Linked DNA regions of Homo sapiens. The protein of the gene in region 1 purifies or fractionates together with the protein of each later gene. This does not show direct contact. Each region holds a gene or a part of one and is shown on either strand. Other genes may lie near its edges. The genes, in order: GALK2, MVD and LTA4H.

The links.
Region 2: the proteins of GALK2 (region 1) and MVD fractionate together in Homo sapiens (co-fractionation; one large-scale study listed by BioGRID). This does not show direct contact.
Region 3: the proteins of GALK2 (region 1) and LTA4H fractionate together in Homo sapiens (co-fractionation; one large-scale study listed by BioGRID). This does not show direct contact.

What each region holds. Positions count from the first base shown.
Region 1 is NC_000015.10:49,295,667-49,299,321, reverse strand, and holds part of GALK2 (N-acetylgalactosamine kinase), read right to left. Parts: intron 1-3,655. UniProt on the Homo sapiens protein: Acts on GalNAc. Also acts as a galactokinase when galactose is present at high concentrations. May be involved in a salvage pathway for the reutilization of free GalNAc derived from the degradation of complex carbohydrates.
Region 2 is NC_000016.10:88,656,480-88,660,134, reverse strand, and holds part of MVD (diphosphomevalonate decarboxylase), read left to right. Parts: intron 1-1,414; coding exon 1,415-1,485; intron 1,486-2,105; coding exon 2,106-2,220; intron 2,221-2,552; coding exon 2,553-2,699; intron 2,700-2,887; coding exon of another isoform or gene 2,888-2,989; intron 2,990-3,655. UniProt on the Homo sapiens protein: Catalyzes the ATP dependent decarboxylation of (R)-5-diphosphomevalonate to form isopentenyl diphosphate (IPP).
Region 3 is NC_000012.12:96,002,421-96,004,742, reverse strand, and holds part of LTA4H (leukotriene A-4 hydrolase), read left to right. Parts: intron 1-761; coding exon of another isoform or gene 762-788; exon of another isoform or gene 789-822; coding exon 823-905; exon of another isoform or gene 906-1,136; intron 1,137-1,617; exon of another isoform or gene 1,618-1,678; coding exon 1,679-1,783; intron 1,784-2,322. UniProt on the Homo sapiens protein: Bifunctional zinc metalloenzyme that comprises both epoxide hydrolase (EH) and aminopeptidase activities. Acts as an epoxide hydrolase to catalyze the conversion of LTA4 to the pro-inflammatory mediator leukotriene B4 (LTB4).

The DNA.
Region 1 (3,655 bases):
ATAAATAAGATTGACAGACTGCTGCCTAGTTAATAAAGAAAAAAGGGAGAAGATCCACATAAACATAATCAGAAATGACAAAGGTGATATCACCACTGACCTCAGAGAAATACAAAAAACCCTCAGACACTATTGTGGACACCTCTGTGCACTCAAACTAGAAAACCTAAAAGAAATGAATAAACTCCAGGAACTGAACCAGGAAGAAACTGAATTCCTGAACAGACAAATAAAAAGTTCTAAAATTGAATCAATAATAAAAAATCTACCAACCAGAAAAAGCCCTGGAGCAGATGGATTCACAGCCAAATTCTACCAAACATATAAAGAAGACCTGTTAGCAATCCTACTGGAATTATTCCAAAAATTGAAGAAGAGGGACACCTGCCTAACTCATTCTATAAGGCCAGCATGATTCCAATACCAAAACCTGGCAAAGACACAACAAAAAAAGAAAACTTCAGGCCAATATCCCTGATGAATATAGATGCAAAACTATTCAGCAAAAACTAGGAAATTGAATCCAGCAGTACATCACAAAGCTAGTCCACCACTATCAAGCAGCCTTCATTCCTTGGATGCAAAGGTTAGTTCAACATAGGCAAATCAATAGGTGTGATTCACAACATAAACAGAATTAAACAAAAACCATATGATCATCTCAATAGAAATAAAGACTTTCAATAAAATTCAAGAACTCCTTATGTTAAAAACTACCAACAAACTGGGCATCAAAGGAACATACCTCAAAATAATAAGAGCCATCTATAACAAACCCACAGTCAACATCATACTAAACAGGCAAAAGCTAGAGGCATTCCCCTGAGAACCAGAACAAAACAAGGATTCCCATTCTCACCTATTCAACATAGTATTGGAGGTCCTAGCCACAGCAATCAGGCAAGAGAAAGAAATAAAATGCATCCAAGTAGGAAAATAGGAAGTCAAACTATCTCTCTACACTGACAATATGATACTATACCTAGAAAACCCCATAGTCTCTGCCCAAAGGCTCGTGGAACTGACAAATAACTTCAGTAAAGTTTCAGGATACAAAATCCATGTACAAAAATCAGTAGTATTTTTATACACCAGTAATGTCCAAGCTAAGAGCCAAATCAAAAACACAATACCATTCACAATAGCCACAAAAAGAATGAAATACTTAGGAATATAGTTAACCAAGGAGGTGAAAGATCTCTACAATAAGAATTACAAAACATGGCTGAAAGAAATCAGAGACAACACAAACAAATGGGAAAACTTTCCATGCTCATGGGTTTGAAGAATCAATATTATCAAAATGGCCATACTGCCCAAGGCAATTTACAGATTCAATGCTTTTCCTATCAAACTACCAATGTCATTTCTCACAGAATTAGAAAAAAAAAAATTCAAAAATTCAAATAAAAAATGGGCCCAAATAGCCAAAGCAATCCTAAGGAAAAAGAACAGAGCTGGAGCCATTATACCACCCAACTTTAAACTATACTACAAGGCTACAGTAACCAAAACAGCATAAAACAACAGACACATAGACTGATGCAACAGAATAGAAAACTCAGAAATAAATCCATACACCTACAGCCATCTGATCTTTGACGAAGTCAACAAAAATAACCAATGGAGAAATGACTCCCTATTCAATAAATGGTACTGGGATAGGTGGCTATTCATACACAGAAAATGGAAACTGGACCCCTTCCTTTTACCATATACAAAAATCAACTCAAGGTAGATTAAAAACTTAAATGTGTGACTTAAAACTATAAAAATTCTAGAAAAAACAGCCAGTATATGCAGTTCTGAACATAGAACTTGACAAAGATTTCATGATGAAATCTCTAAAAGCAATTGCAACAAAAACAAAAATTGACAAGTGAGACATAAACTAAAGAGCTTCTGTACAGCAAAAGAAACTGTCAACAGAGTAAACAGACAACCTACAGAGATAGGATAAAATTTTTGCAAACTATGCATCTTACAAATGTCTAATATCCAGAATCTATGAAAAAGGTAAACAAATCAACAAGCAAGAAACAAATAACTCCATTAAAAAATGGGCAAAGGACATGGACAGATACTTCTCAAAAAAAGACATACACATGGCCAACAAGCATATAAAAAATGCTCAATATCTAATCATTACAGAAATGCATATTAAAACCATAATGAGATATCATCTCACACCAGTCAGAATGGCTATTACTAAAAAGTCATAAAACAACAGATGTTGCCAAGTTTGCCAAGAAAAGGGAATGTTTATACACTGCTAGTGAGAACGTAAATTAATTCAGCCATTGTGGAAAACAGTTTGGAGATTTCTCAAAGAACTTAAAACAGAACTACCATTCAACTCAGCAATCCCATTACTGGGTATATACCCAAATGAATATAAATCATTCTACCAAAAAGACACATGTGGACAGGTGCAGTGGCTCACGCCTGTAATCCCAACACTTTGAGAGGCCAAGGCGGGTGAATCACGAGGTCAGGAGTTCGAGACCAGCCTGGCCAACATGGTGAAACCCTGTCTCTACTAAAAATACAAAAAATTAGCTGGGCGTAGTGGCAGGTGCCTATAACCCCAGCTACTCGGGAGGCTGTGGCAGGAGAATCTCTTGAACCAGGGAGGCAGAGGTTTCAGTGAGCCAAGATCGCATCACTGCACTCCAGCCTAGGCTACAGAGTGAAACTCTGTCTTAAAAAAAAAAAAAGAAAAAGACACATGCACTTATATATTCACTGCAGCACTATTCACAATAGCAAAGATATGGAATCAAACTAGATGCCCAACAGTTGACTGGATAAAGAAAACGTGGTGCAAATACACTGTGGAATACTATGCTGCCATAAAAAGGAATGAAATAATGTCCTGTGTAGCAACATGGATGCAGCTGAGGGACATTATCCTAAACAAATTAATGCAGGAACAGAAAACAAAATACCATATGTTCTCAATTGTAAGTGGGAGGTAAACACTGAGTACATATGGTGACAAAGAAAGGAAAAGTACACACCAGGGCCTACTTGAGGATGGCCAGTGGTAGGAGAGTGAGAGTCAAAACACTACCCTTTGGATACTATGCTCACTACCTGGGTGATAAAATCATGTGTACACCAAACCCCAGAAACATGCAATTTACACATGTAAGAAACCTAGTGTGTATGCCCTGAACCTAAAATTAAGTTGAAAAAGAAAATAAATAAAAGTTCTGGAAAAAAAGAAATAAGATGAAGCATGCCTCATTTTTACAAAAACCATGAAGTCATTATTCTTCAGGAGGAAAAGCTTATGAATATATACATAGAGAGGCAGAGAGAGAGCAATACATGTTGTTTGATAAGCAAATTGCTCTTTGTATTTTCCAAAGCATTCTGGGAAATTTACTTATTCAAAAAAAATCTAAAAGAAAGGAAGACAGGCAGATGCAGAAAGAAAGGAAGATGGATACAGAGCAAGAGAATAGGTTGTGGATTAAGAAGCATAAGCAGAAGATAAGAATTATATTAAGCTTTTAAGACAGGTAGAAACTGCATTTCAGAAAAGGGAGAAAATTCATTTATAAAAGCACAGTGGTATTTAGGATTAAAAGCCCAGAGGGAAGACCAAGCTTCCAATTAGTAAGTGGAATGGTCCAACCAAGGTAACACT
Region 2 (3,655 bases), on another chromosome or scaffold:
GCAGGTCAGGGGAGTCCAGTCTCCCGTGTGCTCTCCAATGACTCCTGGGGAGGTGAAAGTCCCCACTCCTTCAGGGAGGGAAAGGGGGCGGGGCACTGTTCCAGCCTGGAGTGTGGGAGGGATCTGTTTCTTTTTTTCTTTTCTTTTTTTTTTTTTTTGAGAAAGGGTCTCCCTCTGTTGCCAGGCTGGAGTAAGGCTGGAGTGCAGTGGTGCCATCTCGGCTCAGTGCAACCTCCGCCTCCCAGGTTCAAGCGATTTTCCCGCCTCAGCCTCCTGAGTAGCTGGGATAACAGGCGTGCGTCACTACAGCCTGGCTAATTTTTGTATTTTTAGTAGAGATGGGGTTTCACCATATTGGTCAGGTTGGTCTCAAACTCCCGACCTCAGGTGATCTGCCCACCTCGACCTCCCAAAGTGCTGGGATTACAGGCGTGAGCCACCGCGCCCGGCCAGGAGTCTGTTTCTGTGTTGCTAGGCTGCCCTTCCTGGTCCTGCTAGGGAGGGCTGGCTTTGGTTGGCAGTTCCAGCTTCTGCAGGGCTAGGTCTAGGGCAAGCAGAAAAGAAAGCCCCGGGCTCCCCCTGCACTGTCCCACAGCCGCCCTCTGTCACCCGTGAGAGTCTCACCTGTGATGTCCAGGGTCTCAGTTGTCCCCAGTGGGAGGAAGCGGGAGAAGTCCCCTGGCCCACCTTCCTGAAAGCAGAGGTTCGCCCGGCCTGTCAGGGCAGCGGCGTCCGCCTGCAAGGGGGGCCGCTCAGTGCTGTGCGTGAAAGAGCCTCGCGAGCTGCAGGGCGTGGTTCTCTGCCAGGTGTCCGCGTTTATCACCCCTGGAACTGTCCGCCATCCTCAGAGACCTCCCCTCGCACAAAACCGAGCAGATGGTGTGCTTAGCGAAGCCGCCGTGGAATAAGACTTCAGCTGAAGCACCACGCAGCGCTCCCAGGGCAAACGTTTCCTTTCGGGCTTTCTGGAAGTTTGATTTCACGTGCTGTCCCATGGCCGTGCTGGGCAGAAAGGGGTTTATCCTGGATGTTCCTGGGGCATATGAGCAGTGAGATGTGAGGAGTTCTCAGAGCTGGGCTCCTTTTGTTTGGGAAGGTGGAGGGGAGGCAGGCCGCGGTGGGAGCGATCCGCACCTGGGCACTCACGGATGCTGGAGTAGAAGCGATGAAGGAATGGGGAGCGGGGACGGAGGTTGGCTGGCCTCCAGCTCTGCTCTGGGAGCCTGAGCTCAGTGGGGTGGGAGCAGTTCTTGCAGGCCGGGGTCTGGCAGGAGGAGGGGCACACAGGTTGTGCGGTGAGAGACGGGACTGAGGCGGATGGGGGCCGTGGGTGGGGGGTGGGGGCACCTGTGGGGAACACTGGGGGAGGGTGGGCCGGGAAGCCCACCGGCCTGGCCCTGGCTGTTCATTACAGGGGGCAAGCGCGATGAAGAGCTGGTTCTGCCCATCAACTCCTCCCTGAGCGTCACTCTGCACCAGGACCAGGTATGTGTGGACTGACGACTAAACACCACAGTGCCATTTCCAGAACATTTGTAGAACAGTTGGTACCCGTTGGGTATGGTGGCTCACATCTGCAATCCCAGCACTTGGGGAGAGTCTCTTGAGCCCAGGCATTGGAGACCACAGTGAACCATGATCGCACCACTGCACTCCAGCCTGGGTGACAGAGTGAGACCCTGTCTCTGAAACAAAAAAAAAATTGGTACTTTTTTACCTAAAGGCTAGGATGAGATGGCCTAGCGACGACTCCCAGCCAGCACGCAGTGTCTGTTCCATCTCCCAGTATTAGGAGAGCTGAGCACAGCACACATGTGCCCCCAGGTCTCGTCACACATGCGCACACCGTGCCCCAGGGGCTCCCCTGGGAGTCCCCGTCTCTTTATTCAGGATAAGGCCTGGTTGCTCCACAAGGTGTGGCCCACGCTTTCATCCCCCACGGGCTTCCCCACTGCCCAGCTGAGACTGGCCTTTCCCCCCCTGCCCTCAGCAGGGCTGACCTTGCTCGAGTGGGCAGCCATGAGGCTCTCTCAGTAGAAAGGGGTACCTGGCTGGCATCGGTCCTCAATGCTGGCCTCTGAGGTGGCCCTGGGTTTCCTTTTCAGTTAAAAACCACCACAACAGCCGTCATCAGCAAGGACTTCACCGAGGACCGGATTTGGCTGAATGGCCGGGAGGAGGATGTGGGGCAGCCGCGGCTGCAGGCCTGCCTGCGGGAGAGTGAGCTGGGGTCCCCATAAGCCCATCCCTCCCTGTTGTCAGCAGGGTCCGAGCATCCAGAAAGTGCTTCTGCCTCTGTGCCCCTCCTGAGGCAGCAGGCGGGGTGGCTGGGAACCAGACATGCCCGCTGGGCCGCCAGCTCCAGGGCAGTGGCCCACCTCAATGACCAGCTGGGCTTGGGTCAGTCTGGGGTTTTCCCGGGTAAGAAACTCTCCACGAGGAGTCTGGCAGGCAGAGGCCTGGTGTTCAGCTGTGACCCCGGGCAGGTGGGCAGGAGCAGGGCGGGCAGGGTGCTGACGGCTGGGCCACACGCTGTCTCATTGTCTCTGCAGTCCGCTGCCTGGCCCGGAAGCGGAGGAACTCACGGGATGGGGACCCGCTGCCCTCCAGCCTCAGCTGCAAGGTGCACGTGGCATCGGTGAACAACTTCCCCACGGCTGCGGGCCTGGCCTCCTCAGCGGCGGGCTATGCCTGCCTAGGTGGGTGCCCACAGAGACCCGCAGGGGTTCTGGGCTGTGGGCGCAGGAGCCACTTCATGCTCTTCCCGGGTCAGGGAGCCCACTGCTGGGCGTGGCTAAAAGAGCATCCCCTCACCCCAGGCCTCCCTGGCCTCTCTGGAGTTGTTCAGTCTCTTCCCAGAGCACATCTGAACATTTTCATCTTCCAGTTGCAGCTGGCGTGGGGCTCTCGCCTGTAATCCCAGTACTTAAGAGGCTGATGGGGGAGAAGCACTGTAGGCCAGGAGTTCAAGACCAGCCTGGGCAACATAGTGAGACCCCCCCCCATCTCTACAAAAAATAAAAAAATCTTCCCGTTGCTGTATGTGGAGCCCCTCTAGATTGTCAGTGATAGAAACCACTTCAAACTGGCTCAGCCCTAAAATAGCGATGATTTTGTGGCTCACGTAACTGAGGATTCCAATGGGCACAGCTGGTTGCAGGCCCCGCTGGACCCAGCTCTCTGCTGGCCCCAGGCCACTTGCTGGCAGCTTCCCACCCACTGTCAGAGCCTGTCCCCCCGGTGGTGGTCTCACACCATCTTCACCCCTCAACTCCAGGGGTGACGCTTCCTGGCCCACCTGGGCTCCTGCGCCTTCCCTGAACCACCCTCGGTGACCAGGGTGGGTGACCAGACCTGGAGGTGGGGTTGCCCTGCTGGAGCCCTGTGGGAGGAGGGGAGAAGGTGGCTCCCGTGCTGGGTGGGCAGGGGGCGCGTCTTGTGGAGTCCAGCTCTGTCCTGGCATCGGTCCCTGCCCCACACAGCCTTAAAATTCCTTCCCACCCTCAAAGCCCAGCTTGGGTGTCCTCGGGGGCCTTTCTCCCGCCTTCCATGGGGCTTCCTGCTCTGCCGCAGGTACCTTTTGTTGCCCTTGTCGCGGGCCGCAAGCTCTGCAGGCCGTGAACAGAGAGTGTCCGAGAGTGGAACTAGCGGAGGT
Region 3 (2,322 bases), on another chromosome or scaffold:
TATTAGCGACAGGATTAGTAGTTCATGAAAGCAGAGATTGGTTAGTGAGTGTGGAGTCCTGTAAGGTAAGGAGGTCGTGGTTGGAGGGGAGAGTTATCATCTACCTAGAGGCACCTCTGCCTCTCACAGGCACTACAAACTCTCTGCTTGTCCAAACTGAACTCATCTTTTTTCTTTCCTTCACCCAAACTTGTCCTCCCTTTTAGGGTGAGTTAAGGTAGGGATAGGATGCTTATAAACCCCCTGAAATTGTATACAGAAGTTTGTATTCATGTAGTAAGTGTATTTTCCCCCTAGGGAAAGAGTCCACATTATTCATCAGATTCCCAAAGAGATCTATAATACAAACATTTAAGAACTGCTATTATGTAGGTATGCAGATAATTTAACAGGGATTTCAGAGGAAATATACAAAGATAAAGCTAGGGGGAATCAGGCAAAAATTAAGGAACTATGATTTCATCTGGAGAATGGAATTGCATTTAAGATATATAAGTTATAGAGAATAACTAGAAAAACTCTAGGAAAAGTCTGAAAGATAATATTTATACATGCTAAAAAGTCTAAGAAGAGCAATTCTCATTTAATGCTGAATACTTCACAAAGTAAATTATCCCTGTGCTCCCAGTAGAATATCCTCATCTGGAATAAGTTTGCACAGAATTTACTTAGTGTGCAATTTGTTTCTTTTATTTTTATCTGACTTATTTCTATATTATAAAATATTTAGGATTTTAATCTGGCTATGCATTTCTCTCCAGCTCCTTTCTTCCAAGGAATCCTGTTGAAATGATACGGTATACTTCTTTATTTTGCTCTTAGGCACCTCTTCCATTGGGGCACATAAAGCGAATGCAAGAGGTGTACAACTTCAATGCCATTAACAATTCTGAAATACGATTCAGGTACATCATTTTAACTTGTCTCTGTGGAAGAAAGCAGAAAACTAAACTCCTTTGAAAGATGGAGAAAGGGAATGCAGAGTATGAGACATACTTGAGTCTTGAGAATTCCTTGTCAAACTGACTGCTTCTATATAAATACTTATAGTGGTATTTAAGGAATAGTTGCAATATGTAATCTGGTAGTATTAATCTTTTTGTTAGACTTTGCTCTAAACCTCTCTTGCCTTAAAAGAAAAAAAAAAAATTAGAATGAAGGATTCCGTGGTAAATAGGCTTTCTCCACAACCAACTAAATCTACTTTGAAATGGGAATAGTTAGAAATATTTTATTCTATTATATGTTAATCTTTCTTAATTCAAATTTGTAATGTGAGGCTTAAACCAAAGTTTAATTCCTTCAGAAATTGCATGTATAAGGTATGTGAGCACCTACCTGATCTTTCTTAATTCAAATTTGTAATGTGAGGCTTAAACCAAAGTTTAATTCCTTCAGAAATTGGATTTATAAGGTATGTGAGCACCTACCTGATCCAGACCTTTAAAAATATATGATCTTTTTCAAGAACCAGCTCCTCTTCTTTCTCTTCACCAATTATTAAATTGTATATATAAGGATTTGAGAGTCTCAGAATCAAGACATACCATAAAGTGGTGTACAGTATAACTATAGTGGGGTTATTCATATCACTACAGAAGTAATATTAAGATATACCTGTCATATCCTGCCCCTTCCTCATTTTCTACTCCATGCTCCCCCCAAATCCTCCTTTTAGATGGCTGCGGCTCTGCATTCAATCCAAGTGGGAGGACGCAATTCCTTTGGCGCTAAAGATGGCAACTGAACAAGGAAGAATGAAGTTTACCCGGCCCTTATTCAAGTAAGAACCCACTCAGACCGTACTTTGAATTCATCTAAGAAACAGGAAGAAAACTGTCAAATATTTAAACGTAATCTATATGACAATATTTTTTAATTTGTTAAAGTTTATCAGTATAATTTTGGAATAGGGATTCACACTTATAAATATTTAAAATGTGAAATAATTTCATTCCTCTTTTTAGAAGCATTATATATGGATTACTATTTTGGATCAAATAGAGTTAGATACTGATAAAATAGAAATAAATCAAAGATAGCCTTATATACACAAAGATTTTTAAAGGTAACTAGAAGATAATTGGTGGGTAGGTATAGACAAGAAAGAGAGTCTGAAGTTAAATGTAAGGAGAAATAAGCAGATAAAGCTAACTCTTTTGTGTTCAAATGTTGCATAGAGGTCAAGGGTAGGTTGCTTGACATAATAAAGGAATGCTTAGTGAGAGGGGGATAAGTTGTATCTTGACAGCAAGATACAAGAATATCTCAGTCAAGGTCTTTATGAATTTTGTCCAAATTCTGGAAAAAAAAATCATGCCA